Homo sapiens: one gene and its partners. The protein of the gene in region 1 interacts with the protein of each later gene in a pairwise test. Each region holds a gene or a part of one and is shown in the gene's direction. Other genes may lie near its edges. The genes, in order: ANXA11, TFG, NFKBID and KRTAP13-2.

Region 1 (9,145 bases):
CTCCCTCCTATTAAAGAAAATTCAAACAATCCAAACGAATGCAGGGAAAGAGAAAAAAGAAACAACAAGAAAGCATATTGTACATGATATTTGAAATATTAAGCCACTGGTGTAGCCTGTTTGCTGACTAATTAGAATCTTAGAAAAGGTCCTAGAGGGTCTCCCTGTGAGAAGCATTGACCCTTTTTTGCCAGATCAGAAGAAGGTCAGGAGTGGGGGCACTGTGGGGTCTCAGGTGAGCAGCTATTTACCAAGCAGCATGGAAGAATTCCAGTTTGTAATAATTTATAGGATTTTATCAATGTGTTCTAGATGAATATCCATTTCAAGGGTATATGTATAACACAAATGATGGCAGAAATAAACCCAAATATTTCTGTTATTCTTATCAATGTGAACTGGTTAAACTCACAAATTAGAAATAGAAACTCAGATGAACTTTTTAAATCTTGTAAAAAACAATATGTCATTTCCAAGAGATAAACCTAAGTAACAATACAGAAAGAGTAAAAAAGGAGAAATAAAACATATACTAGACAAATGCTATCTCAGGATAACAATATTTATACAAAAAGTAATAAAACTGAATAAGTCATAAAAGGATAAAACAATATTAATTTGTATAAGCCTAATAATTTGCTCTCAAAATTATAAGGCTGGCCGGGTGAGGTGGTACATGGCTGTAATGCCAGCCACCTAGGAGGCTGAGGCAGGAGGATGGCTTGAGGTCAGGAGTTTGAGGCTGCAGTTATAATCACACCTGTGAATAGCTACTGTACTCCAGCCTGGGAAACATGGTGAGACACTGCCTCTTAAACAAAAATCAAAAAACCAAAAAAAATAGTATAAAGCAAAATCAGACTAAATTAGAGGGAGAAATTGACAAACTACAATAAAAGTGGGAAATGTTAAACCTACTCTTTCAGAAATCAATGGATTGAACAGGAGAGAAAAAAAAAAAAAACCCAGGAGATAAAAGATCTAAATAACCTGATTAGCAAGCTAGATGGAGAGATATAGAGAAAAAAAAACCACATAAAAAGTGAAGAGACGTTCACAAAAATTGGGACAGCCAAAAAAAGTCTGTATATGAGGCCACAAAGGAGGCATTAACAAATTCTAAAAGAACACATTTCCTCATCTCCAAGCATTAAAGTTAGAGATCAATGACAAAATGATTGATTTATTTTTATTTAAATTTTTTTTTGTAGAGGGGCTCTCACTGTGTTGCCCAGGCTGGTCTTAAACTCCTGATCTCAAGCGATCTTCCCACCTTGGCCTCCCAGAGTGCTGGGATTACATGCCTGAGCCACTGGGCCCCTCCCCAAATGATTATTATTATTTTTTAAAAAACTGAAGTTTGAAAACAAAAAAAGAATGGAAAATATACGTCTAAATAATCCATGAATTAAGCATACAATCCTAACATAAAAAACAAAATATTGGCCAGGCACAGTGGCTGACGCCTGTAATCCCGACACTTTGGGAGGCTGAGGCCGGTGGATCACTTGAGGTCAGGAGTTGGAGACCAGCCTGGCCAAAATGGTAAAACCCCATCTCTACTAAAAATTAAAAAATTAGCCGGGTGTGGTGGCGTGCACCTGTAATCCCAGCTACTCAGGAGGTTGAGGCAGGAAAATCTCTTGAACCCGGGAAGTGGAGGTTGCAGTGAGCTGAGATCTTGCCACTGCAGTCCAGCCTGGACGACAGAGCGAGACTCTGTAACAACAACAACAACAAAATCCAAATATGTATAACTAAGTGATAACAAAAGCATAGCATATTAAAACTTGTGATATTCAGCTAAAGCAGACTTTTGAGGGAAATGATAGTCATATATACTTATTAGAAAACAACAAAAGAGGCCGGGTGCGGTAACTCACACCCGTAATCCCAACACTGGCCCTAAAATTAAAATTTTTAAAAAGGAAGCTTATATACCATACTACTCAGAGCTATATAGCACGTCACCATTTTTTACAGTGCACTCACCTTCCCTTACCTTGTATGATGTTTCTATGAGCCCTGGGAAACAATGAAGCAGGGGTGATTTTATGGATTTTTATAGGTCACGTTGAAGATTTTATAGGTGAGAAAGCCGAGGCTCGGAGGATGCATGACTTGCAAGTGTCAGAATCAGAACTAGAATAGATCCCACACATTTGAACACCGAGTTTGGTGTCTTTTCCTTCACACCGCGTTCTCTGGGGGTGCCTGGGCGGTGACCCCTGCCATTGGCCTTGAGGATTAGGGCCTCAGCTCGGGTCCTCTGCAGAGCCTCCTCAGTCCCTAGCAACTTGCTGGCACCTAGCCGGGGCTAAACGCAGGTTTGTTGAAAATTATAAAAGGGTAAGCCCAGGGGTAGCTATTCACCATTCTGGGTTTGAAGAGCTCTGATGCAGAAAGGTGTATACATCCAGCAGGAATTCCACCCTACATGATTTATTATAAACGTGGTATTCTAGGAGCATTCGCTCAGCCACGGAGAAAAATGGGCCTTTCGAAGAAGCTGGCCTTCGCGGTCGCTGTGGGGCGGCAGAGCAGGCGCAGGCGTCCAGGCAGTGGGGGCTGGGTAGGCGCCAGGAGACCTTCCCGGACCAATCCCCGGGCCCAGAGAGAGCGCCTGGAGACCTTACCTCCCCAGGAAATTCACACAGATTTCTTGGGGGCTTCACACCCGCGCCCCCAGTCCCGCCATCTCCTACGCCGCAGCAGGCGCCCCCACCAGGGTAATAACCCACTCTGAGAGTCTCTGGTGGTGCCTCTGATCCTCTGCTCTTCTGTTCCAGGCAGCGTTTTCTCCGAGCGGCTCTGGAGACTTTGGCCTGAGTTTCACCCTCACTCGCCGACTCATGTCCAAAAAATGCAGTCCAGCCCCGAAAGAGAGCCGCGCCTGCTGGTGGGGGTAGGGGGTGTTGGAGCGGCCACGGAATATGACTGAGCGCCCGGGGCCCGTTGTGAGGCCGGGGCCAGGCTGTCCCAAGGCACCGTTCCTGCCCGGCACCAGCACACCTGCCCAGACAGGGAGAAGGTCGGAGCCTCCCCTCCAGTCCTTCCGGATTTTATTGTTCAGAGCGACTTTAAAACGCAAATCGGGCCGGGCGCGGTGGCTCACGCCTGTAATCCCAGCACTTTGGGAGGCCGAGGCGGGCGGATCATTTGAGCCTAGGAGTTCGAGAACAGCTTGGCCAACATAGTGAAACCCCGTCTCTACTAAAAATGAAAATTAGCCGGGCGTGGTGGTGGGCATCTGTAGATCCAGCAACTCAGGAGGCCGAGGCAGGAGAATCGCTTGAACCCGGGAGGCGGAAGTTGCAGTGAGCCGAGATCGCGCCACTGCACTCCAGCCTGGGCGACAGATCGAGACTCCGTCTCAGAAAAAAAAAAAAAAAAAGGAAAATCGAACCAGCAGCTTGTTTGTAACAGCCAAACATAGGCAACAACCTAAATGTCCTTCAGTAAGGAGCTAGGTAATGAAGAATGGTGAAGCGCACGATGGCGCGCAGTGTGCAGTGGATGGGAAGAACCAGGTCTGTTCAGGAGCACTTGTATGGAAAGACCCTCCAAGATATAGTGAGTAAAAAAACATGTTGCAGAAAAGTACTGCAATATCGTTTTGTAAACAATACGTTTATGTAAACACACACACACAGTGTTAAAGAGAGATATTTGGAAGGACACACCTAAGAGTGGGCTGGGGGAGTGGAGGGAAGAGTGAATCTCAATTTTTACTCATTTTTTGAATTTTTTATTTTTAGTTTTTTAGAGACTGGGTCTCACTATGTTGCCCAGGCTAGTCTGGAAGCCCTGTCTTCAAGCCATCCTCCTGTCTTGGCCTTCCAAAGTGCTGAGATTACAGGCGTCAGCCACCACTCATTAAAAAAAAAAATTGTATACCTACCATATATGCATATATTACCTGGGTGACCTTTTAAAAATATGCTTTATTTTTAGAACATCTTTAGATTTACAGAAAAAGTGTGAATACAGGGAATTCTCATAAACCCGGGCTTTTCCTATTATTAACATCTTAAGTCATTTTTATATCTCCGTGGGTTCCTCTTGGCTGTGACAGTGTCCTAGACTTTCCTTGTTTTTGATGACCTTGCTAGTTTTCAGGAGTACTGGTCATGTATATGGCAAGGGCCTCAATTGATTTGTGATGTTTTCCTCATGATTACAGTGGGGTTAGGTGTTCTTGGGAGGAAGACCACAAGCGGTGCATGCAATCAGTATGATTTACCCCTGTCGAGGTCACCTTGACGGCTGGGTGGTTTGTCAGGTTTCTCCACGATAGTCACTGACCGCTCCCTTCCTCACATACTGTGCGTGACCTTCCCCCCTCCACCACCACCGAGTGTTGCTATAAAGGAAATGCGTTTGACCTTTTCAGTGTAAAAAGTTTTCTCGACCTTAAAGAGAGTCACTAACCGACGCACACGGGGCTGGAGAGGACTTAGGAAATGCCCACCCCTGCAGGAGGGCGAATGCGGCTCTGCGCGGCACTGGGCGCCGCAGGGGTTAGGGGCGGCAGAGGGACCTCCGGAGCCCGAGACTTCCTGGAGCAGCTCCGCAGCCGGAAGGCTGCTGCTCCTCGCGGGCCCGCCGTGCCCAGTCCTCATCTTGGGGGCGGGGCCGCGCTCAGGCCCCGCCCCTCCCTTGCACTGCCTCTGGCACCTGGGGCAGCCGCGCCCGCGGAGTTTTCCGCCCGGCGCTGACGGCTGCTGCGCCCGCGGCTCCCCAGTGCCCCGAGTGCCCCGCGGGCCCCGCGAGCGGGAGTGGGACCCAGCCCCTAGGCAGAACCCAGGCGCCGCGCCCGGGACGCCCGCGGAGAGAGCCACTCCCGCCCACGTCCCATTTCGCCCCTCGCGTCCGGAGTCCCCGTGGCCAGGTGAGTGAGGGTCCCGAGCCGGCTGGGGGCCTGGGACCAGGCGGCGGCAGTGCACCGCGGCGCCGCGGGTGAGGCCCGGGGCTGCCTGGCGCCCAGCCCAGCGCGGCCCTGCGGCTTCCTGGTTGCACTACAGGCGTGGGGGTGGGGGGCAGGGGAGGGCGTCGGCGGGTCGCGGGCGGGCCGTGTCGGCCTGGCAGCCCCCTAGATCAGCCTCGGCGTCTGGGGCTGCTCCCTCATGTGTGGTCGGGGTGCACTCGCCGTCCCCCCGGGCTCAGGGGTCGGGGTCTCAGTCTGGGCCTGGGTAGGGCCAGGGGCCGTGACCCTGGGCGCAGGAGGCAACGGGTGGCGGGAGGGGTGCCGGAGGCCCGGCCCCGCAGCCCTGCGGAGCCCTCCAGGGTGCGCGCGCCCTTCTAGGCGAGGCTTGGGGAGATTAAGCAGAGAAGGCTATCTTCAGGAACTTTCCTCCGAAACTGGGAGCACGCACATTCCTGGGAGCTGCTACCATTGCAGTTTATTTGTAAGGAACTCTCCCCAGTGTTTGAGGGAATGCGGGAGCCATCCCAGGTGCTGTGCGTGCCTTCGCCCCTTCCCCAACCTTGATCCCCAGTTTCAGGAAGGGATTCCTGGACTTGTATCTCCCATGGGTGCAGGCCAGGCCCTTAAGACTTAGGTAAAATGGTCTGTTGGTTTAAAGGAGACACGCGAAGTTTGTTACCTAGAGACTTTGGAGGGGAAAAGTTAAGCCAGCCAGTGCTAGCCCAAGCTGGAAACAGTCAGCCCGGGGCATTTCTGTCTCTGCCCTCCAATCCTTGACCTCTCTGTAGAGATTCGGCGTTTGTGGTAGCTCTCCCCTCTGTTCTCTGCGCTGGGCATGGAGTGGAGCTGTGAGGCCGAGCCCCTGCCCTGCCCTGCCCTGCCCTGCCCACGCAACAGGGACTAGGTTTGCAGGGCAGGGCCTGGTATGCTCACCCTTCACTGGCTCTCATTGCTTTCCTCATTCCTTTTATGCGGCAGTCAATTGTTGGGGATTCCAGGGGATTAACAGGGCCCCTTTCCTCAAGGCATTCTTTGTGCTGCAAGGTGTTCCCTGATAAGAGAGGCCAGGTGAGGTGCCAGGGCAGTTTGTTGCCCTGGCATTGGGTGCCCACTACTTCAGGCTCCTGCATACCTTGCTATCTTTTCTTTGACTATTGTCTGTGCTTTGGTTTTTCATCTGTAAAATGGGGGTAATAGTAATCCCTGCCTCACAGGCTTGTGAGATTCAGTGCATTCATTTATTTAATAACAATACAGAGCTCAGGTACGGACCAGTCAGAACAGGTGGTGACTGCTGCACCACACTTGTGTATCCCAGATGGGTGTCACCCACATTAGCCATAAAGTGTGTGAGGCAGGCCTGGGTCATAAATAATCAGGTGTAAGGGTCAATAAATAGTAGCAGTGGAAGGTTCAGCTAAAGTTGAAATGCACTTCTCCTGAACCGTCTTTCTGGCTTAGCTCATGCTAAGCTCATGCTCTCTGTCTTACTGGAATGCCCTCCCTCCCCTGTCTGGCCTAGCATTCTCCACCCTCCTGGGAGCCATCCGGGTGCCTGCTCCCAGCAGGAGGGACGGGATATGCTCTGAGCTCACTCAGCCCTTCTGGCACTGACTCGGTTCTCATCTCTCGCCTTGCATAGTATTTGTGTGGCGGTGTGGCTTATCGCTGCCCTGTCCTCTGACTCTGGAGGGTGGGGGCTGTTTCTGACTTACCTCTTGGTGGCAGCACTCAGGATGGGCCTTGCCTAATGTAGGTGCTCAGAAAATTAGTTGTCGTTAGTTGAACAACAGAGACAGCACAGGGAAGTGGTTTCCCTGTGGTTAAAATATAGGACCTTGAAGGCTGGGTTTGGATAGAGAAACGTGGGGAGGGTGAGATGGAGATGAATTGGGACTAAGAGGTGGGAGTGGAAGCCTCACCTGACGCCTTTATGCATGATACTATAGAAAGGGCCCACCCTGGGTGGATGTGTCTAGAAGGCCAGGATCGATTAGTGATGCCTAGTTCACGTGATTGGGGAGGTGATGTGTGGCTTGGGATGACAGGAGTGGGAGTTGAGACAGAATAGGTTAGTGTGGGTTCTTCTTGGAAATTGTAGAATAGAGAAAAGAAACTGGTGTGGGCAGGAGCTGAATGTGGAACCAAAATGCATGCTGAATGCTGGAACATCAGAGGTCCTGGGACCTTTCTGGTGCACCCCCTCCTTCCTCCTGGATTCACCCCTCTTCTTCTGCTGTCTTTTTTTTTTTTTTTTTTTTTGAGACAGATTTCGCCCTGTCACCCAGGCTGGAGTGCAGTGATGCAATCTTGGCTCACTGCAACCTCCGCTCCCTGGGTTTAAATGATTCTCCTCCCTTGGCCTCCCGAGTAGCTGGGATTACAGGCATGCACCACCATGCCCGGCTAATTTTTGTATTTTTAGTAGAGACGGGGCTTCACCATGTTGGCCAGGCTGGTCTTGAACTCCTGACCTCAGGTGATCTGCCTGCCTCAGTCTCCCAAAGTGCTGGGATTACAGGCATGAGTCACCGTGCCCGGCCTCCTCTCTCTTCTTAGCCACTGTTTTCCCCCGTAAGCCTGAAGCAGTTCCTGGCACTTGTTCCCATGGGGAAGCGTCTGTGTAAGGGTATGCTTCACCAGCACTGCCAAGGAAGTAGACTTTTCACTTTCTCTGGATTTTTCTCTGCAACACCCTCTGATCCCATTGCCCCCAGAATAGTAGGAATTTTGAGTGATACCTAGATAGGAAAGCTCTTAGGATTAATGAAGAAACTGAGATTTTCTTGGTGGGAGTTTGTGCTTTTAAAGGGAGTTGTTGCAATTCAATGGAACTCTGTAATAACCACTGAAACTGTTACACATTAGGCTTACTGACCCTATCTCCTATAACCCATGAAATAAAGACCTGATAGTCACATAGTTGTTTGCTATTTGGGAGGATCCTAAAAGTACAGCCTGAACAGTGACCCAAACCACAGCTGGCCTTGCCCATGCTGATGTGAGGAAGGAATGGGTGGGGGCAACTAAGAAATTGGGGGACAGAGTTCTCTGTGCTAGGTATCCTAGGACAAGCCACCCAGCCACACAGAGACCCCCCGCTTCCCCCCCACAGAACAGTTCTGGATGATAAAATGCCTGCCTGGAATGGAGAATCAGATGAGAAGATGTTTGCAAAGGGGTTTGAGATCAGTTAGCGGGTGGTGATGACAATGTTGATACCGTGGGTGTGTGACTGCCAGGAGCTGTGAAGCAGAGGGTGGAGTGTGCGGTGGTCAAAGCCTGGTTCTGGGATCTCTAGCTTTCCAGGGGCTTAGGCTCCGCCTTAGCAGAAAAGAAGGAAAGGAAATTGAGAAGGAAGTCAGGTGTCCCCTGCCCCTCACACTTGGGGATGGCTGACTTGGAGGACATGAGATGGGGGAAATCTGAGTGAGGGCAGAGAAGAGAAATGTGGAGGCTGCTCACAGGGAGGCTAGGGAGCATATGGCATATCCAGCCTGGGGAGTGGCACCACTGGGGGAAAGGGTGCGTGTGACAGTGGGGAAGGAGTGGTGATAACAGATGTGAGCTTGCTGTGTCCACTAAAAAGGTCACGGCTATTTTTAGGAAGTAGGTGACAAGGCATGTTCCTGTAGAACTGCTTATTACTGAGAACCCACTGTTGGCCTCGCCCTGCGTGGTGTGCTTAAAAGGAGAGACCGCCCCCACTCACCCTAGAGTCATCCACCTGGTGTCCCTGAGACATGGGACACTGGATGAGGACCAGGTTTGGAGGATGAAGAAGATCATGTATTTGGTTTTGGACATGTTGTGTTTGAGGTGTCTTTGAGATACCAAATAAGCTGGTGGGTCTGGGGCTCAGGAGGCGTCTTGGCTAGACAGACATTTGTCTAGGTTGTGTTTGTATTTGAAGTCATGGGCACAGCGAGATTGAAGAACTCACCTCGAACAGCTGAGTAAAGGAAGATGAGCCTATAAAGGACCCAGAAAAAGAGCGACCTGAGAGGGGCCCAGAAAGCCAGGACAGAGTTGTATCCCAGGGGCCAGGGTGAGTCTGCTTCGTGGGATGGAGTGGTCAGCTTGGCATCGCGGCTGTGGTGAGTGATATGGAGGAGATGTGGCTGCCTTCACTGCTTTGGTGGGATGATGTGAGCAGAAGCGAGGTTGGAGTGAATGGGTGAGGAGTAGCAGGACGTGAGGATCTGATGATAGACAGGC
Region 2 (9,000 bases), on another chromosome or scaffold:
GTAGAAATAAAATGTAAAATTTGAGATTATAACCTTAGTTCAGTTTCTTTTTATAAAATAAAGCCTTAGTTCCTATAATTATTATTTCCAGAGTGCCCAGTGGGTATCTGATACTAGGATATAGGTTATTGGGCTCCAAAAAAACCAAAAAAAGTAAAATGTTTCTCTTTATCAAGGAGCTTGTATTTTTTTCATCTAATGTTTCTTACAAAAGGAGGTAAATAATTTTTTTGGAAAGCTTTTGTTCATCTTCTGTTTCTTTTTGCCCTCTTCTCCCTGTTACTAGAAGGAAAAATATAAAAAAAATAAAGGAATTAAAATGATCTGTAATCCTATATTCCGACATGCTTAACATTCCAGACTATCATTATACACCTGCATTATTTCCCTTGTACTTTTAGGCCTTACTGAATATAGATAAAAAGGAAACAAGTTTTTGTTTATTCCTCTATTTTTACAGATACTGTGGATGGTAGGGAAGAAAAGTCTGCTTCTGATTCTTCTGGAAAACAGTCTACTCAGGTTATGGCAGCAAGTATGTCTGCTTTTGATCCTTTAAAAAACCAAGATGAAATCAATAAAAATGTTATGTCAGCGTTTGGCTTAACAGATGATCAGGTTTCAGGTAAGTTGGTTTCCAACTCCTTTACACCCTTCGTTTCCTTCATCTTTCCGTTCTTCCCTTTCCTTCTTTCTTTAATTGAAGAATAACTTGGATATGGTGAAGTGCACAAATCTTAAGGGTTCTGCTTAACAAATTTTTACATATGTGTACACTTATGTAAAAGACTAACTAGATTAAGATGTAGATGATTTCCAGCACTTCAGAAAGCTTTCTTATGTCCTCTCCCCAAGAGTAGCACCCTCCCCCTTAAAGAATAAGCACTGTTGGGTTCAAGTAAATTTTTGAAAGTAAAATTTAGAAAGTTTTTAAAAATCTGAACTATTTTATAATTTGATTAGTTGCAGTATTCGAATTATATTTGATTTGTCTTATCTCCTCATCTTAGAGAAATTGAAAATTAAATGTAGATTTTCTTGTTAAATTGCTTGAGTATACAGTGGGTTTTTATATAAATAAGTTTTTAACCTTAAAGCAGTACCTATATTGTTTTATTCTGTTTAACTTTTGGTTATAATTTCTTCATTATTTTTTCCTGCTTTTTCTCTTTTCGGATTCTAATAACACATACATTGGAGAGCTTGATACTGTCTCATGGGTCATTAAGGTTCATTTTTCTTCAGTCTTCTCTCTGTTCTTCAGGTTGGGTGATTTCTGTTGAACTCTTCAAGGTCGCTGTGATTTCTAATATGCTGTGGAACCTTTCTAGTGAATTGTTTAATTGTGCTTTCAGCTCTAGAATTTCCATTGGGTTTTTATAGTTTCTGTTTTTCTGTTGAGATTCTTTATTTTACATTCATTAAGTCTATATTTTCCTTTAATTGTTTGAATGTATTTATGTTTGATTCTTTAAAAATATTTAGCTGCTTTAAAATGTTTATCTGCAATATGTAACACTTGGACCCATTTGGAGTCAGTTTCTATTGACTGGGTTCCTCTCCCCCACACACACTCCCCCCAACTCCAGTAGGGTCACATTTTTCTGTTTCTTTGCCTGTCTGATAGTGTTTGGTTGAAAACTAGACATTCTGGTTAATATGTTGTAGTGACTTGGACTTATATTCTTTTGAGGATTTTCTGTTATTGTTGATCTAGCAGGGAGTTGATTTGTATGGACTTAACATAAATAACAAACAGAAAAGCGCTCTCTAAAAGAAAAAGGTATTTGGGAATAGAGCATTGCATTGAAAATATGCATGCCATAGTAAACTATGTGCATATTCAGTGAGGTAAAGGCAGACAAAGGTTTTTAAAGGAAAAAATGAGGAGAATATATAATTGTTTTGAAATAATTATTGTTGGCTACAAAGATCATTAGCAAGAGTGATGCCAGTCTGAGGTTGGACAGGCAGTTTCTGGGCAGATGTCCTCACAGTCACAGAAGTTTTTTTTTTTGCTTTTTTTTTTGCAAAGTTGTGATGGCCTTTGTGTAGGCTTGTGGTTTTTGAACTCTTTTGTGATAGTTTTTGCAAGAATCCTCTCTTCATGGCCTTATCAGAGTTTTTAATTTTTTTTTAACATTAATGACTTCATTTTGGTTTTGATAACTTTCACATACTCAAAACTGCTCCTTCTTTCTCCCTATGGTGTATAGCAGCTGATATGTATGCTCAGTCCTTTCAGCTTGCTCTAGGTGCTGCATTTTTCTCTGAGCCTTCTTGAGATATCCTCGTCTGCTCTCCCAGCCCTATAGTCAGCTGGGGATTTGGACAGAGTGTATATACCTAGATCGTGGGTCTTACCCTTTCAGTAGCACCTTCACTTCCGGGATTTTCCTCCTAAATCTTCAGCTGCTTGTCTAGCCATAAGGTTGTTAACACTGTGGTTTTCTGCCATTGGAGCTGCAGAGGTCAGCGCTTTTAATTCTTATCCATTCTAATTTTATTGGGGTAAACTCCTCTGGTTTCTGATTGACTTTCAGTTATTTCAAATAGTTTCTTTTGTTTTGTTCATGTTTTTAGTTGTTACCTGGGAGAGAGTTTATCTGATGGATTTACTTTGCCTTTATCAGTAGTTGGAAATGTGTACAGTCCATTTTGTATTTCTTAGAGACTTTCATGGAATTACTCACAAAAGAGAATTGTGTGAAAATTTGATGAGGTCAGACTTTTAAATTTTGATTTAAATGTAGTATATTCCAGACTAGAATAATATTAATATGATTCACATTATTTGAAGACCATTTTTCTCACAGCTTTGTATGTTGAATTATAGTAGGAAAAACTGTATGCATAGCTAGGATACTTTTGTAGTTCTTCAGGTGTGATGTGGTAAAAATGTGGCTTATTAGAATAATGAATGTGGCAGTGGGAAGGAGGGATAAAATATTACAAACATGGAATGAATATTAACTGTAATAAATTACATATAAGGGAGGAAAGAGGAGCCAAAGTAATAAATATATATATTTAGGCTAATAACAGTGTCTTTTGTGGGAAGAATGTGTGTATTTATCTACATAGATATAAATTTAAGTAAAATGGTGGTAGATAGAAACCATCATCCATTTTATTTTGGCAATCATCAGTCTCTCTTGCATTACCACTATTATATCCTAGTTTAGGTTCTTATTAATACTTGGACTGTCAGCTGTCAACTGTGCCTAATACTGTGGTAAGTTCTGGGGATACATCAGAGCAGAAGATAGAGGTTTGCCCTTAGAGAAATTAGTCTGCTGATAATAGCAAGTACTTATATGGAACTTTCTGAGTAGTAGTCACTTTTATAAGCTTTTGCTGTATAATTCCTTTTATAAGCCCATGCTATAAGCTCTTGTAAACTCATAATCCTCACAATAACCTTATCAAGTAGGAATTAGTATATCCTTTGTACAGATGAGGAAACTGAGGCACAGAAAGAGATTATGTAACATGTCCAGAGTTACACAGCTAGTGAGTGACAGCACTAGGATTTGAACCTGGGTAGTCTAGCTCCAAAACCTATGCTTTTAACCACTCTTCTGCATTGCCAAAGCAGAAAGAATTTAAAGGAATAAGACATATTTACATTGTCCTCAGAATATCTTTTTTGACTGTCACAGCATTGGAACTGTAATATATTCTCTCCATTCATTTCTGTGTTCATTATTTTGTAAGAATTATAGTGGCTCCATATGTAAGTTAGAGTGCTAGGCCTTGTTCGGCAGACAAAAAGAATCAACAGTCAGGAGCCCGGCCAAAAGAGTGCAGAGTCTTTAAGAGGGAAAGTGAGAGCTATTCAGAAATGCAAAGTAGAAGTCAGTATGAGTTAACAAAAGTAAACTAGATAGAAGTTCACTAGTAGAAAAAGTATTCATGAGTCAAGAAGGCTTACTAGAAGTGTGGAATTATAATTGGATTTTAAATAATGTTATATTTAAATATGTGAATGTTATATTTAAATATATGGGATCTAGTGGGAGAGAAATAGAGGTCAAAAAAATATTAGCTATGTTATGGGAGTAGGGAGAAGGTTAGTTTAGCTGAAAGGGAGGCATGTGAGAAGAGAAATTGTGAGAAATAATGTTTGGACCCTTAATGCCAAACTAGGAGGTTGAACTTAATTTATGGTCAGTGAAGACCCCTTGAAGAATGAAGTGACAATTTTGGTTCCTGTGCAGAATACATTGCTTGGAGTAGGGGGATATTGGCATTGCAGACATGAGTTTTGATTTTTGCAGGGAGAGGTTAAGACTCAGGAATATAGTACTCTACACTTTATAAGGAAGGAGTTCCAGTTGTAGCTTTGGATTAAGAGATTGGAGCAAAGGAAAAAATAAAGTACATACATTTAATGTAAAAAGGCGTATTTGTGGTTATATACTTATTCTATAGTACTTTTAGTATCTTTTAACCAAACTTATTCCTTGAGCTTGCTGGGGGAAGGCCTTGTGTTGGATACTAAACTGACTTTTTTTTGACTATCCAGGGCCACCCAGTGCTCCTGCAGAAGATCGTTCAGGAACACCCGACAGCATTGCTTCCTCCTCCTCAGCAGCTCACCCACCAGGCGTTCAGCCACAGCAGCCACCATATACAGGAGCTCAGACTCAAGCAGGTCAGATTGAAGGTAAAATAGAGTTTAGAACACATGTTTGGGAAAGTACATGTGTAGAAGTGTTTATTACAGCATTGTTGTAAACACTTCATGTATTTAGTCATGCCTTAAACACAGGAAAAATTTTGATTTACTGACATGATTTGATGTTAAAAAACCAAATAGAACAATATGTCAGGTATGTTTCCAATTATTGGAATGAAAAAAATACCTCAAAAAAGTGTTTCTATGAATATAGATACAGAGTGAAAGACCAGTCATTAGTCAGTGGTGACCCTTGGAGGGGAGGATAGTGAAGTTCAGACTGGTGATTTCACACTTTATTTTGTGTTATAGATGCTATTTTATCTCCCTCCTTTCTTCAACATCTGTGCATGATTTTTCTAATTTAAAAAAGATTTCTGAATAGAGGTAAAGGATAACTTTAGTTGTAGTGGGTTTTTTTTGTTAAGATTAGTAGCCTTTTATAATTTTGTAAATTTAGCAATATGTCTTTAATGGAAAAAAAGCAGTGTATTTTAAGTCAGACTTTTTCTTCTGAAATAATCTGTCCTTGGATATGCAGTTTAGTCTCTCTGGGTTTTGATATTCTTTCACTGTAAAATGTGAAAACTGGACTGAACCCAGTGGTTTCAAAAGAATGTCTTTAGTTCTGAATGAAATATAACCTGAAAGCTCCATATTTAAAATAGGGGATTGAAGGGCAACAGACTTCACACAGCAGGCACTAAGGTGCCTCATTGAAAACCTTGGAGTTCTGCAGAATGTGACTAAGTACTTAACTAATCTCTAGGGTGCCTTCCAGATAATGAAGTGTGATTTTTGTATTGTCTATGTGTGTTGGGACCTTTAAAGCCGCATTCCACTTCAAAACAAACACCAGGTGGTGCTCTAACTATTTGTTTAACGGGTCAGATAGTGGTATAATGTATTTCCAGCCCCAGAAGCAAGTGATTAAGGTTATCAATTACATTAAAACAAAAACAAAACATAGGCTAAAATGAACTGACCACTTTTGGAATAGAATCCTATCATCCTGTGGTGATACTTTCAGAGTTACCTGGCTAGGTGTGGTGCCTCACGCCTATAATCCCAGCACTTTGGGAGGCCGAGCCAGGAGGATCACTTGAGCCCAGGAGTTTGAGACTAGGCTGGGTGACATAGTGAGACCCTGTCCCTACAAAATAAAAAAAGATTTAAAAAAATTAGCCAGGTGCTATGGCATGTGCCTATAGTTCCAGCTACTTGGGAAGCTGAAGTGGGAGGATTGTTTGCATTGTTGAATTGAAGTGGGTGGTCTAGGCTGCAGTGAGCTGTATCACTCCACTGCACTCCAGCCTGGGCAACAGAACGAGACCCTGTCTCAAAAACAAACAAAGCCAAAAAAAAAAAAATCCACAGAGTTGTCTGTTGGATGAACACCAGTCATTATGGACTAGCAGGTGACATTTTGCTGATGAATCAGTGGTTTGCGAAGAATTTCTTATTGCTTAAGCCTTTTCTCAACCAACTTTAATTAACTCCTCCTCTGCACCAAAATGCTACTGCCAAAACTAGAACAAACTAGAACTAAAGCAGATGTCAGCTGAAATGGACAAAAGCAGAGTATAGGTATGATGAGAGTTTAATGCCTACATCAAGCGAACTAAAGATTTGTTTTTAAATAAATCCCATTTTAAGCAGTGTATACTGTGATACAATGACAGTTGGAAGGATCATTGTACCAAATAATGTTTGCTGTTTATGTATAAATAAATGGGAATTAAGGCGCTACTAGCAATATCTAAACATTCTATGAAGTGTTTAATTGAGCATTTTCAAATAAGTAAAATTTTAAAAATGCGAAAGGACATACAGTGAAAATTCTCTCTCCCACCTCTGTCCACAGCAACCAAATTCCTTTTTTCAGAGGTAGCAGATTAACACTGTTTATATGCATTTAATTTTTAGAGTAGTATTGTATGCCTTGCTGCAATTAACTGTTAGCTTACATTAAAACATACAGTATGAAAATTGTACAATTAATATGTGACATCATTTAAACTATTAATAACTGATCTAATTCTAGATCAGTGCTGTCCAAAAGAATTACGATAGAAGCCACATGTAGTTTTTCTATTTAGCAGCATTAGAAAAATGTTTAAGAAAAGGTAAAATTAATTTTATTTAGCCTAATGTATCCAACGTGTACTCACTATTAAAAAGTTAATTTTTTTGGTACTGTGTATTGGAAGTCTGGGATTTGACACTGATTTGGAACACTTCAAACAACAAACAACATATCACATTTCAAACAAGCCACATTTCAGGTGCTCAATAGCCACATGTAGCTAGTGATTATTTTAAGAGCACAGCTTTAGATAAATATAGTCGTTATTTATAGATTCCCAGCATGAATTATAGGCTACTTTTACTTTTTGTTGTATAATGAGTCTTTGACATTGTCAGTTATTTAGATCAACTACTGGTTATAATTTGAGCAGAATTACCAACATAAAATGTATTACTTATAATTTGTTAACATAGCAATCTCTTACAATGTGTTAATAGTCCATACTAAAATTAAGAATTCTGAGTTGTTACTTAACTCCCATAAAAGGGACTTTGGAACTGTGAATTTTATTCCAAATAAATGTAGTCTTAATATGTTTTTCAGTTAAAAGGATCAACAAGATATTGAGCATCATTAAAAAAAAACCAAAAGGGATAATGTTACTCTTTTTCATATAAAGCCAGTGCCTGTTACAGGAAGACTATGTGATGTTGCCAGAAATGTAACTGGTAAGGAGAAGAACGCTAAAAATCATCAGAGATCGGGAGATATTGCTGTTTGACAGCCTAAAAAAATGAAAAAGCATATAATTAAAATCTTTAAAATCATATGCCAATATAATGAAAAGCTGAGTAGCCTTTATTATGTAAATATTGAAACATACATAGAATAATCAACTCTTCATGTAGTCATGTGGCTTCAACACTTACCAATATTTTGGCATTCTTTTTTCATCATTTTTTCCCCACTGCACCCCTTTTAATTTGCTGGAGTAGTTTAAATCAAATTATGAACAGCTTATTATACTCAGGTATTTCAGTATATATGTCCAACTGATAATCTTCTTTTTAATATAACCACCATGCTGTTACTTAACAGTGATTCTTTTTATTTTTAATTGTGACAGGGTGTCACTCTGTTGCCCAGGTTGGAGTGTACTGGCTTGATTACAGCTCACCTGCAACCTCAACAGTGATTCTTAATGTCAACGTGTGCTAGTCTGTGTTTGAATTTCCCTAATTGTTTCAAGATTCGTTTGTTAAATTGACTTGTTCAAATGAGGGGCCTAACAAGGTTCACACTTTGCATTGTTAATGTGTCTTGAGTCGTTTTTTCTAATAGCCATTAGAAAAAACTTACATGTTTCTAAAATCCCTTACATGTTTCTAAAATCAAAACTATGTGTATTATTTATTACTGTGTAACTATTATCCCAAAACATAGATACTTAGACAACAAAAGTTAATTATCTCATACAGTTTTAGACAGATATCCCGGAATGGTTTAGCTGGGTGATTTTGGCTCAGCATCTCTCATGAGGTTGCAGTTAAAAATGGCTGCTGGGGTTATAGTCATCTGAAGCTTAACCAGAGCTGGAGGATTCAGTTCTTTACCATTTGGACTTCTCCATGGGGCTGCTTGGGTGACCTCATGACATGACAGCTTCACCAGAATGAGTAATCAGAAGAGAGTGAGGTAGAAGATAACCTTTTATAGCCTGTCCTCAGAAATGTCACTGTCATTTCTGCAATATTTTCTTGGTATACAGGTCAGCCCTATTCAGTATGTGAGGGACTAACAGGGAGCAGATACTCATGTGCTTGTTGCTTATTTGGTCATTTTTGTATTGTGGAGTTAAATCTTTCTAATTTCTAAGAATATAAACGATACCAACCCATTGTCATAAATGCTATACATGTGCAGAAGCCGTTGAGGGTCATGATAGAGGTTGGCTACTCTGTGTAATAAATAATTCCCAGAAGTCTTACCATTACTCTTTGCTTCATCCTGTTCTCTTTTCCCCTTAATTTTTTTTATTACTTTTTACTTTATTCTGTCATTGATTCTTTTTGAAAATATACATAAAACATAGCTTATATATAGTCATGCACTGTATAACATTTCAGTCAACAGTGGACTGCATATATGATGGTGGTCTCATAAGATTATAATGGAGGTGAAAAATTTCTATTGCCTAGTGATGTGTAGCCATCATAATGTAGCACAAGGCATTACTTACGTGTTTGTGGTGATTCTGGTGTAAACAGACTTACTGCCAGTCATATAAAAG
Region 3 (5,089 bases), on another chromosome or scaffold:
ATGGAGTCTCGCTCTGTCGCCCAGGTTGGAGTGCAGTGGCACAGTCTTGGTTCACTGCAACCTCCCAGGTTCAAGTGATTCTCCTGCCTCAGCCTCCCGAGTAGCTGGGACTATAGGCATGTGCTATCACACCCCACTAATTTTTGTATTTTTAGTAATAATAATAAGTTTTTTAAAAATAAGAAAGATGGCTGGGTGCGGTGGCTCATGCCTGTAATCCAAGCACTTTGGGAGGCTCAGGTGGGCGGACTGCTCGAGCTCAGGAATTCGAGACCAACCTGGGCAACATAGGGAGACCCCATCTCTAAAAAAAATACAAAAATTAGCTGGGCTTGATGGCACATGCCTGTGGTCCCAGGTACTCAGGAGGCTGAGGTGGGAGGATCACCTGAACCTGGGGAGGTCAAGGCTGCAGTGAGCCATGATTTTGCCACCACACTCCAGCCTGGGTGACAGAGCAAGACCCTGTCTCTCAACAACAACAACAACAATAATAAAAGATAAGAACTCTTTCCCTGTAATCCCAGTGCTTGGGGAGGCTAAGGTGGGAGGATCACTCGAGCCCAGTAGGTTGAGGCTACAGTGAGCCTTGGTCACACCACTGCACTCCAGCCTGGGCAACAGAGCGAGACCCTGTCTCAAAAAACAAACAAAAAACATAGCTTTTTTTTTTTGAGACGGAGTCTCACTCTGTTGCCCAGGCTGGATTGCAATGGTGTGATTTTGGCTCACTGCAACCTCTGCCTCCCGGGTTCAAGCTATTCCTGTGTCTCAGCCTCCCAAGTAGCTGGGATTATAGGCATGTGCCACCACGCCTGGCTAATTTTTGTATTTTTAGTAGAGACGGTTTCACCATGTTGGCCAGGCTGGTCTCGAACTCTTGACCTCAAGTGATCCGCCCTCCTTGGCCTCCCAAAGTGCTGGGATTACAGGCATGAGCCCCTGTGCCCTTCGAAAAAAAAGAACTTTTTAAACCTCAGTATCATTGCTCTGTCTTTAAAAAATTAAAGATTTTCTTGTAATACCAAATATCCTGGCTGTATTCAAATTTCCTTTTGGCTGTAAAATGATAATTTTTTTCATTAAAAAAAATCAAGATCCAAATAAGCACACATATTATGATGTTACGTCTTTTCAAATCACTCTTAATCTAGAGCTTTGGTTTTGTCTTCATCATTTTTTGGACGAGCAAACTAGGTGGTTTTGCCCTGTTATCAGCACATAAAATGTTTAACATTCATTATCGTTACAAACTCCTTAAAGACACATAAAAAGGTTTCATTTTAGAAAATGTCTTTTATTTTCCCCCAAATATGATGGGAACAGCTCAATATTGTGGTGCAGTATTGCAATATTAGCTAGTCCACTGATTAATGCTGCCAACTCCTGTGCTTGTAGATAAAGTACAGTCTGTGTGGGTCGGGATGCAATTTAATGTGTTGAATGGAGGGCAGGTAGCCAAGGCAGTTGCTTTGAAGAACTGGAAAAGGAGTCTCTTTCTCAGACACTGGTGGGAAAATTGTCATGAGAAATGTACAGTTCTGGAAGGTGTATGGTGTGAATGGTACACCCTGAGACGTGGTGTTGTGCGGTGCACAAGACATACAACTGAATAAGGCACTCTTGGTGGGGCTCGCAGAAGAGGGCCAGCATCTTATTTATTTATTTATTAATTTTGAGATAGAGTGTCACTCTGTCACCCATGCTGGAGTGCAGTGGTGTGGTCATGGCCCACTGCAGCCGTGAACTCCTAGGCTCAAATGAACCTCCTGCCTCAGCCTCCCAAGCAGCTGGGACTACAGGTGCGCACCACCACGCCTGGCTAATTTTTCTATTTTTTGTAGAGATGAGGTCTTGCTGTGTTGTCCAGGCTGGTCTGCAGCTCCTGGCCTCAAGTGATCCTCCTTCTTCAGCTTCCCAAAGTGCTAGGATTACAGGCGTGAACCACCGCACTCCGCCAAGGGTCAGGGTCTTTAAAGACTCCTGGATTCTGTGGGAGGGCACCTAGGTGTGAGGCTGGCCCTGACCTCTGCCATTCCCTTCCCCTCAGGAGATCAAGAGCAACAAGACAGTTCTGCACTTGGCCGTGCAGGCTGCCAACCCCACTCTGGTTCAGCTGCTGCTGGAGCTGCCCCGGGGAGACCTGCGGACCTTTGTCAACATGAAGGTGGGAGCTGGGGCTGGGAAGTGCAGATTGTGTGGGGTACGGTAGGGGGGGCAGTGGGATGTTAGGGGTCCTGGGGGCTGTGGACGTGGAGGGGACGATGTGTGGGATCTGCAGGGGAAAGTATAGGAAGCAGACACAGATTGCCCCAGAACATGTAGTCCGTGGACACAGGGATGCATGCAGCGTGGCTGTGGCCGGGGGAGGTCTGGGATGTGAAAGGACAAGTGTAGGACGTAGACAAGGCAGAAATTGAAGTGCAGTTTAGAGGCCTGGGCCAGCTGAGCCCAGATCCCCACCAGCCCTCCCCTTACTTTTCCAGGCCCACGGGAACACAGCCCTCCACATGGCGGCTGCCCTGCCCCCTGGGCCGGCCCAGGAGGCCATCGTGCGGCACCTGTTGGCAGCTGGGGCGGACCCCACACTGCGCAACCTGGAGAATGAGCAGCCCGTTCACCTGCTGCGGCCCGGGCCGGGCCCTGAGGGGGTAAGTAAGCACTGAGCCTGCCTGTAGAGTGGCCTCTGAGCTCGCGGGCGCGGGATGACCTCCCTGCCCCACCCAATGCTCGCTTTCAGAGAATGACTTCTAATCTCGGAAGGTGACTTCAGCCCTCAGGCAACCCTGACTCTATAATGTGACCTCTGACCTCAGTGTTTCATCCTTTACCCCAGAATGGTGACTTCTCTGATCTCTACCCCAACCCTGACCTCACAGTGTGACCTGTACTTCCAACCCTGAATCTTGCTTGACCTCAAGGTGTGACCTTTGATCCCCCCAAGTGTGACCTCCTACCCCCTGCCCCTAACCTTGGGTCCTGACCTCAGATGTGACCTTTGACCTCTTACCTGTTCCCTTCAATTCCCTCTCATTCCTCACCCCCAGGTGGGAACCCCCAGCCAGCAGCCCCTTTCCCTTCACTGAAGTTCTGCTTCCTGACCCTTTCTCAGTGTACGAACCCAGGCCTTGACCTTCTTCCCACATCTTTATTTTTATTTGTTTGTTTGTTTATTTATTTATTTTGAGGCAGCGTCTTGCTCTGTTGCCTAGGCTGGAGTGCAGTGGCATGATCATAGCTCACTGCAGCCTCGAGCTCCTGGGCTCAAGGGATCCTCCCACCTCAGCCTCTCCAGTAGCTGGTACTACAGGCAGTCACCACCACACCCAGCTAATTTTGTTTTTTTTTTTTTTTAAGAGATGGGGTCACACTATGTTGTCCAGGTTGATCTCAAACTCCTGGCCTCAATTGATCCTCCCGCCTTGGCCTCCCAAAGTGTTGGGATCACAGGAACCATCACTCCCGGCCTCCTTCCCAAATCTTTTTTTTTTTTTTGGAGGCGGAGTCTTGCTTTGTCACCCAGGCTGGAGTGCAGTGGTGCAATTTTAGCTCACCGCAAGCTCCACCTCCCAGGTTCAAGTGATTCTCCCACCTCAGCCTCCCAAGCTGGGACTAAAGGCACACGTGCCACCATGCCCGGCTAATTTTTGTATCTCTGGTAGAGGCGGGGTTTCGCCATGTTGGCTGGGCTGGTCTTGAACTCCTGACCTCAGGTGATTTGCCCACCTTAGCCCCACAAAGTGCTGGGATTACAGGCGTGAGCCACTGCACCTGGCTCTTCCAAAATCTTGACTCTGGACCTCTGATCTTCAAATCCAAAGGGACCCACTCAACCTCTCTTCTCTAGCCCCTCCCTCTGCATGGCGTGCCTTCCCCACCTCTCCTTCCAACCTGACAGACTTCTCTCCCTCCTTTGCCTTGTCTACAGCTCCGGCAGCTGTTGAAGAGGAGCCGTGTGGCGCCGCCAGGCCTGTCCTCTTAGGACTCAAACCCAGACCCTGGACTGATTTTCCAGTCCCCACCGTCCTGCGGGACAGCCAGCGTATGCTAATGTTGCAAACCCATGATAATGTATGTGGAATATCCTGCCATTGGGGTTTTACATTAAAACCCCAGAATGGCTGCAGAGGGGTGAACAGGCCCCAATATTTGGGGTGCTGTGATACCCCTCTTCTACCCACAAGGAGCCCTCTTGATGATTTCTGTGAAATCGAGGCCCCTTGATTGTTTCTGTGAAACACCCTGCACCCCTAGTCCTTTCCCCACTGAGATCTTTCGGGTTCTCTCCCCTAACTCAGCTCTTCGTTCCCAGAAACCCAGATGTAATCCCCCTACGTGGTGCTTGGGGCATCCCGATACCATCTCAGTAAATCTCCTACAATGGCCTCCTCACCCTCCCCGGGACCCACACCCTTCAGGTCCTCACCCTGAGACAGGAGGGACCCTCTGAGATCAGGGACCCTTAGGTCTCACTGCTCTCTGATTCAGAGCTCAGCTGGGCCCCCAGTTCCAGACCCCAGCATTCCCGGTCACTCCCTCCCTAATCTGAGCATCACTCAAGCTCTTTATTAAACTCAATTTGGGCCAGATTTGGTGGCTCATGCCTGTAATCCTAACACTCTGGGAGGCCGAGGCGGGCGGATCACTTGAGGTGAGGAGTTTGAGACCAGCCTGGCCAACATGGTGAAACCCTGTCTCCACTAAAAATACAAAAACAATTGGCTGGACATGGTGGCATGCGCCTGTAGTCCCAGCTACTTGGGAGGCTGAGGCAGAAGAATTGATTGAACCCAGGAGGCGGAGGTTGCAGTGAGCCGAGATTGTGCCACTGCACTCCAGCCTAGGTGACAAAGAGAGACTCTGTCTCAAAAAAAAAAAAAAAAAAAAATTTAAACTCAATTTGGACTAGAACCACTGTTGTCTGATCTCTGGGGGCACTGGTGCAGGGGAGTGGCTGTGATGCCCGCTGAGGGGTCATATTGGGATGAATGTGCCTGAGGGGGGAGGATGTAGCAGCCACCATGGGTGCCAAGTCCATATCCTGTCACCCTCACCCTGGCGACACAAGAGGGACTGGCCTTTAGGAGGC
Region 4 (7,581 bases), on another chromosome or scaffold:
ACTCTATCTCAATCAATTGATGATTACATAACTATATATGTTTGTCAAAACTCATTGAACTGGGAAGCCAAGGCAGGAAGATTGCATGAGGCCAGGAATTCAAGACTAAACTGGACAACACAGTGAGAATCTGCCTCTACAAAAAAAAAAGAAAAAAAAATAGCTAGGGGTTGTGGTATGCACTTATAGTCCTAACCACTCAGGAGGCTGAGGCAGGAGAATGACTTGAGCTCAGCAGTTGGAGGCTACAGTGAGCTATGATCACACTACTGCACTCCAGCCTGGGCAACAGAGCAAGCCCTTGCCCCCTCCACCAAAAAAAGAACAGAAAGGAAAAAACCCATTGAACTGTACTCCTAAAAATGGTGCATTTCATTTTATGGGAACTGTGTATCCACAGATCTGACTTTACAAAAGAGTCAAACAACTGACCAGAGGAATATATTAGCAACATATGAAAGACAAAGGCATACAAAAAGAATGCACAAATTCTCTAAAAATACATTTAAAAGAACAAATGACTCCATAGAATAATGGCTAAAAGATAACAAAATATGAGAAACTAAAACAGGTCTGAGTTACACAGCTAAGTGATGGAGCTGGGATTCAAACTCTGCCAGCCTGAATCCAAAAGCCTTGATCGTAACTACCATGCTAGAATTGAAATTATGTATGTCCAGCAATTGCATCTAAATATACATGTTCCAGAAGCCCTAGACAGTAGATGCAAGGGCCTATATAGAAGTATATTTCTTGCCACATGGTTTGTGATAGTAAAAAATCAAGAATGGTAGAGCGATATATCAATAAAATATTTTTATACAGTAGAATTCTATAAATTTGTAACAAGGAATAAACTAGATGTGTGTATCATAGCAACATGGTTATTTGCATAAAGTCTGACAATGGTGTCAGTATTGCAGTTCAAATCTCATCTCTGCTACTAACTACATGGGTAGCTTTGGCAAGTAACTCAATCTGTTTGTGTCTCAGCTTCCTCAGCTATAAAACAAGAATAAAAGTGGTGTGTACCATGTAGAATTATTATGAGGATTGAGTTAATATTTGTAATACAGTGCTGAGAACAGTGCCTGACATTTAAAAGTTCTACTGTAGTGATAATAAATGCACAAATATATAAATATCAACTTGGATATGTTTTAGATATTTTTATTTAAATAAATTTAATATAAAAAGAAAGCTACAGATACATATATGTATCCAATAAGATGGCATTTTTGTAACTTAAAACAACAATAAATGGTATAAACCGATAAATATATGTATAGACAATTTCCTGGAATGCTATGCAAAAACGAATGCATTATTGTGATGCCTTTGGAAAGATATGAAAAAGAATCAGACTGAGAGACTGGCCCACAAGGGGTCTCTCTCTGTAAGATAGCGAATAGAATGGTGGTTACCATAGGCTTGCAAGGGTAGTGGAAAGAAAGGACAGAGAGGTGTTGGTTAATGGGTGCAAAAATATAGTTAGATAGGAGGAATAAGATCTAGTGTTCAGTAACACAGTACAGCAACTGTGGTTAACAATAATGTATTGCATATTTCAAAATAACTAGAAAAGTAGATTTGGAATGTTCTCAACACAAAAAAAATGATAAATGTTTAAGGTGATGGATATGCCAGTTACCCAGATTTGATCATTACACATCGTGTGCCTGTATCAAAATATCACATGTACCCCATTAATATGCGCAACATTATGTATCCATAAACATTTAAAATAAAAAAGAGAAAGATGAACGCAAATCTGACAACGTGGTAACAATTGTGAGTTTAGGCATCCAGAAAATGACTCTAGAATTTACTTTAATTTTCTATTTGTTTTCAGTAAATGCAAGGGTAAGGTCTCAGAAGAGATAAGAAGAACCGAGAGGTGTGTAAGCAGGCTGTTTATAAATCTTTTTGTTTGTTTGTTTGTTTGAGACGGAATCTCACTCTGTCGCCCAGGCTGGAGTGCAGTGGCATGACCTTGGCTCACTGCAACCTCTGCCTTCCAGTTTCAAGCGATTCTCCTGCCTCAGCCTCTCCAGTAGCTGGGATTACAGATGTCTGCCACCACGCCTGGCTAATTTTTGTATTTTTAGTAGAGACGGGATTTCGCCATGTTTGAAAGGCTGGTCTCAAACTCCTGACCTCGTGATCCACCTGCCTCGGCCTCCCAAAGTGCTGGGATTACAGGCGTGAGCCACTGCGCCCAGCCTGGCCTTTTTATTTCAAACGAAAGTCATGGATGATGAAGACATAAAATGGATGAATTTGAAGCAGGAAGAGCTGTAGTGAAGTTAGAGGAGGTGCCAGGGCCTGGAAAAGTCTCAAACAATGAGGCCGGATGACCTCCGAGAAAGCCACAGGCCTGGGTAGGCTTGCATGGGGGACTGGGAAGAGACCATGAACAGGTTAGTCCAGGGAGTTCTCATCAAGCCTTTACTCAGTAGTGGGTTCTTCATAGTTAGCATTAATGTTTAATAGATACATTTCCCCTTGGGTGAGAATTTTAAAAATAAAATCTAGTGTAAAGCAGCTGTTATGAAGACTCTTTAGTGACCAGACAATAAAAGCCTCTCCTAGGTCTAGAGAAGGCAGAAAATTAAAAAGTGAACAGAAAGTAAAAAGGTGGCCGGACGCGGTGGCTCACGCCTGTAATCCCAGCACTTTGGGAGGCCGAGGCGGGTGGATCATGAGGTCAGGAGATCAAGACCATCCTGGCTAACATGGGGAAACCCCGTCTCTACTAAAAATACAAAAAATTAGCCAGGCGTGGTGGCGGGCACCTGTAGTCCCAGCTACTCGGGAGGCTGAGGCAAGAGAATGGTGTGAACCCGGGAGGCAGAGCTTGCAGTGAGCCAAGATTGCACCACTGTACTCCAGCCTGGGTGACAGAGCCAGACTCCGTCTCGGAAAAAAAAAAAAAAAAAAGAAAGTAAAAAAGGTATAGGGCAGTATATATGGATTTTTACTATTTCTACTACTGCCTAATATTTGGTTAATTTGAAAGCTTTTGAAGAATCTCTGGAAACATTGCAATAGAAGATTGTCAGTTTAAAGCTTCTGCTACATTACTATGTTAACTTGGAAAAACAATCACTTTTCAAGTAATTCAGATCATAGGCTACTTGTGGCTACTGTGTACTGTAATGATAGTTTTATTCTCTGTAGTGTTGTTATGCCTAAATTTCTAAAGAGAAAAGAGAAAGAAGAAAGAAAGAAAGAGAAAAGAAAGAAAGAAATAGAAAGAAAGAGAAACAGAGAAAGAGAGAGAGGGAGAAAGGGAGGGAAGGAGGCAGAGAGAGAGGGAGGGAGGGAAAGAAAAGAAAGAAAAAGAAAAGGAAAGAGAGGCAGAGAAAGAAAAGAAAGAAAAAGAAAAAGAAAGAGGGAGGGAGGGAAGGAAGGAAGGAGAGAGAGAGAAAAGATTTCAATATCACGTTTTCCCTGACATATCAAGATAGTGAATTTTTCTTTCTATACTAATACTTTGCCTGTGTATGTAGAGTACGTAGAGTATTTTATTAGTTCCAGAATCCACTTTTGAACTGTTAAGGCTACTCTAGTTTTGTTCTGCTTTTTCTGCCTTTCAGATGGACACATTTATTAGCATTTGGGAGTTGTTCATTAGCATTTGTACAAAGTGCACAAATAACTCCTAATAAAAAGTGTTAACCCAATTAGGAATGGGTGGAGGGACTGTTAATTGGAACTGACTTACTCCCAAGTTATTTTAGTGTTTATTCCCAGACATAGGGAGCTGGTCTAGAAAGGCAAGAACTTTTGGATATTAGTAAGTTTTTTGTTTTCTTTTTTTTGAGCAGAATCAACCTGTAGTAAGAAAAGAAAAATATTTCTCATTTTAAAGGTGTTAAAAGCTGCCATTATAAGGAATCCCATGTGTTGGGGGTGGTGCATACTTTTTGGTGAATTTAATAGGTGTCCATTCATAAAGCACAGCTTATTTTACTTCAGTGAATCAGAGTGATGGTTTAAGTATTGCACAAGGGCACTTCATGTGATGCATGCCACACTTTGGATTCTGCATGGGAGAGATAATCATAAAACAAAGTAACTAAGTGCTCTGAAACAGTGTGCTTTGGAATGAAGGAAGTTAATTTTCAGGTAGTTAAGAGGCTCTCTTTTCGATAACCATTGTGAATGCCATTTCCCTTAGTTAAACCAAATAAAATGTCAAATTCAAAAGAAGAAGAATAGACACAGATAAGAAGCCTCTTCCCCCCATTAATCTAAACATGGATTACCAATATTCTTTCTCTTTCTTGGGCTAGGAAGTGAAATATACTTCAAATGTATGAAGATCAGTAAGGCATAGAATTCCCCAGTTGAACACTATTCAGTGTGAATATTGTTAGGAAAAGTAAATAAGGCTTTGTTAGGCTTTTATATCTTAGTATAAATAAGCTTAATAGTTTCTTTTCTGAGACAAGTTAAAGTTGAATTTACTTTTATATTTGCAAGGTATTTGCAACTTGACTCTGAATAAGAAAACCATAATTAAAGCTTCAATTTTGCTTCTATCTTACTGAGAAATTAGGGGAAAGTTAAAGCTCTCTGAGAGGTAATTTTTCCATGTATGGGTTGAACAGGGGATGTTTAAAGACCCATATAACTCTAATACTTCAAGTTAAAAGCTTCAGAAAAATGTTAACAATTCCTCAAAGTTTAAGTATAAATTAATAATTGCAGCTAAGAATCTGTCCTTTTATCCAGAAAAAAAAATTGAAACATAAAACAAAATAAAATTTATGAGTTGATTTAGAGCATAACCATAGAATAGTGCTTGCTACAAGATAGGTTCATCAGAAAATATCTGAAAAACTTCAATTTAAAGTCTTACTAAAAAGTTTGTGTTTATTGTTTCCTAAGTGAGCATTGTCTAAAGTAGCCTCTTGTTAAGGAAGATGCCTGATATGGACACCCAACATAATGCTGCACTCCTCAGTTCTGATCCTGAGCTCTTAAGGTACTAGTAAAAGGTTTAACTGACAGATTGCTGAGGCTACTGAATACAGTTAGTATTTGGAGAAATCCTCCGTTTCTGGTAACAAATAATATGCTTGTGTTAAAAAGAAGGACAATCTATTTTGAGTAGTAACCACTGATGCTCCTGATAACTTAAGGGAAGTAAAGAAAGAATTTTGTGTAATTCCATTTGGTACAATAAGGACTCACTGTACTCAAATAATAAGAGGCAAGATACTCATAAATGTGATGACATATAACATTGAAGGTCAAACCACAGTGAATTCCAGGAAAAAAAAAAACTGAGTGGCTTCCTTCTAAGTGTTCCAGAGTGACTAAAGTACAAGTAAGTATATGAAGATGTGATAAATTAAACAATAACCTAGGGAAGCATTCTTATAATAAAAAGTGAGCAAGGAGAAGGGAGTGTCGAGACAGTGGACACACCCAGGTCTAAGAGCATATATAACTTGGAGTCCAGACTATGACATTCAAACTCAGAGAATCTTTCCACTATAACTCAGCTGAACTCACATCTCCCGTCAACATGTCCTACAACTGCTGCTCTGGAAACTTCTCCTCCCGCTCCTGTGGTGACTACCTGCGCTACCCAGCATCCTCACGTGGCTTTTCCTACCCCAGCAATCTGGTCTACAGCACTGACCTCTGCTCTCCCAGCACCTGCCAGCTGGGTTCCTCTCTCTATAGGGGCTGTCAGGAGATCTGCTGGGAGCCCACCAGCTGCCAGACGTCCTATGTGGAGTCCAGCCCCTGCCAGACCTCCTGCTACCGCCCCAGAACCTCCTTGCTCTGCAGTCCTTGCAAGACGACTTACTCTGGGTCTCTAGGCTTTGGATCCAGCAGCTGCCGCTCCCTGGGCTATGGATCGAGGAGCTGCTACTCAGTGGGCTGTGGGTCCAGTGGTGTCAGATCCCTGGGTTATGGAAGCTGTGGCTTCCCTTCCCTCGGCTATGGATCTGGATTCTGCCGCCCAACCTACTTGGCTTCTAGGAGCTGCCAGTCTCCTTGTTACAGACCAGCCTATGGATCAACCTTCTGCAGATCAACTTGCTGAATTTCCAGACCTTTTAAGCAAAGTGTCTCAGTCTCTACGTAGAGCTGTTATCATAGGCATTTCCAGCAATGTGAGCTAACCCCTCTTACTACTAGCTCTTCATCCTTTCTCTGGCATCAAGTACTGGCTGGACAGGCTAGTTCTTTCAGACTGTGAAATTAATGAATGAGCAAAATATAGAGTCAAATGTCTATAATTTTGAAACAAGTGATTCGTTATCACGTAAGTTCATCTTATAAAGTATATGGAAGTTCAGTTTTGTTTCACGTAATAAATTCATTTACTGTTGATTCCAATATGTTCTCTTTGTCTTTTATTGGTTTCCAAAGTTTGATTTGTGATCTGTTTTGGGGGCTCCAGGCCCCCAGACGTCTTTTCCTTGGACATCCATTTCCATCGGTAATGTCATCAGGCCTAGTGTGTGGGGAGATTCTCCGGGCATGCCAGTGCCTAAAAGACTGAGCAAGTGCATGTCTTCTGCCATGAAAACTGGTTGGATTCTTAACAGAATTATTGAGAGTACACTCATAATGGTGGTGTGTTTTCAAGGAAGACACATTTTGCTGACAATCATATTTGCTTTTTGTTTACATTTTTAAAAGAGTATTTAGAGTTTTCTCAGAAGATGTCAACTAGGTGATTAAATATAAAATTATGAAATATTTGAATAAATCTGAAATGTTATGATGGAAAAGGGAAAATATGAAATGTTAGGTACTGGAGGACATTACGGTTGTGTTTAAATATAGGAGAAAATTAATTATTCAGTGTGTGTGTGTGTTTGTGTTGTGTGTGTGTGAGAAAGAGAGAGAGAGCACAGAAGACAGAAAGACTTAAGGTTTACAACTGTGAGTAATGGAAACAGTTATAGGGAGAAATACTTTGGCTTGTTTTAAATGTATATTTATAAATCATAAATTTATAGAACTATTATGACCTTTGTGTTTTCTTTGGATTATTGAGTTTATCAACAAGGAAAAAGATATTACTTTTCAGTGATTTCTGCATTGAGTGGCAGTTAAAATTAGATTACTTTCAATGTTCTAGATTTTATAACCTCCCTCAGTATCCTTGGAATCCACTGCTCAGCTGTGACAGTGTGAATAAAAATAAATATTTGTAGGATGCTATTCACATCTGAGATATAAGACCTTCTCTATTTATTTTAATTTAAGCAAGTGATTTCTTTCAGAGGCTAAAGGTAGTGTAAAAGTTCAGCTAAAACTTTTTCATAAAATATTCAATAACAACTCTCCATGAATGGGAAAACAACTTTGAAAGATTATCATTTCCTCCAATAATATGTCACGAGCTTTAATTGATTTTTTTCCCTGACACCTTTCCCTTAAGCTTTTTATAATTAAACCTGAAAAAAGAGGGTATCTTTTCTCTTATAATGGAGACAATACGGGCTAAGCATGGAAGTGTGGGAACCACATCCTCTGATCATAGAAACCTGCCGCCACAGAAACTAGAAGAATAGAGAAGGGAAACACGGGAAGAAACTCCTGGCA

Evidence for each region.
Region 2: the proteins of ANXA11 (region 1) and TFG interact in binary tests that used the Homo sapiens proteins (3 or more experiments, as listed by UniProt).
Region 3: the proteins of ANXA11 (region 1) and NFKBID interact in binary tests that used the Homo sapiens proteins (3 or more experiments, as listed by UniProt).
Region 4: the proteins of ANXA11 (region 1) and KRTAP13-2 interact in binary tests that used the Homo sapiens proteins (3 or more experiments, as listed by UniProt).

Annotation. Positions count from the first base shown.
Region 1 is NC_000010.11:80,201,089-80,210,233, reverse strand, and holds the start of ANXA11 (annexin A11), read left to right. Parts: upstream 1-4,696; 5' UTR 4,697-4,891; intron 4,892-5,742; exon of another isoform or gene 5,743-5,995; intron 5,996-8,840; exon of another isoform or gene 8,841-8,975; intron 8,976-9,145. UniProt on the Homo sapiens protein: Binds specifically to calcyclin in a calcium-dependent manner. Required for midbody formation and completion of the terminal phase of cytokinesis.
Region 2 is NC_000003.12:100,732,048-100,741,047, forward strand, and holds part of TFG (protein TFG), read left to right. Parts: intron 1-460; coding exon 461-625; intron 626-4,528; coding exon 4,529-4,669; intron 4,670-9,000. UniProt on the Homo sapiens protein: Plays a role in the normal dynamic function of the endoplasmic reticulum (ER) and its associated microtubules. Required for secretory cargo traffic from the endoplasmic reticulum to the Golgi apparatus.
Region 3 is NC_000019.10:35,887,452-35,892,540, reverse strand, and holds the end of NFKBID (NF-kappa-B inhibitor delta), read left to right. Parts: intron 1-2,050; coding exon 2,051-2,167; intron 2,168-2,486; coding exon 2,487-2,651; intron 2,652-3,928; coding exon 3,929-3,982; 3' UTR 3,983-4,589; downstream 4,590-5,089. UniProt on the Homo sapiens protein: Regulates the expression of IL-2, IL-6, and other cytokines through regulation on NF-kappa-B activity. Functions in the regulation of inflammatory responses.
Region 4 is NC_000021.9:30,370,172-30,377,752, reverse strand, and holds KRTAP13-2 (keratin-associated protein 13-2), read left to right. Parts: upstream 1-5,481; 5' UTR 5,482-5,539; coding exon 5,540-6,067; 3' UTR 6,068-6,363; downstream 6,364-7,581. UniProt on the Homo sapiens protein: In the hair cortex, hair keratin intermediate filaments are embedded in an interfilamentous matrix, consisting of hair keratin-associated proteins (KRTAP), which are essential for the formation of a rigid and resistant hair shaft through their extensive disulfide bond cross-linking with abundant cysteine residues of hair keratins.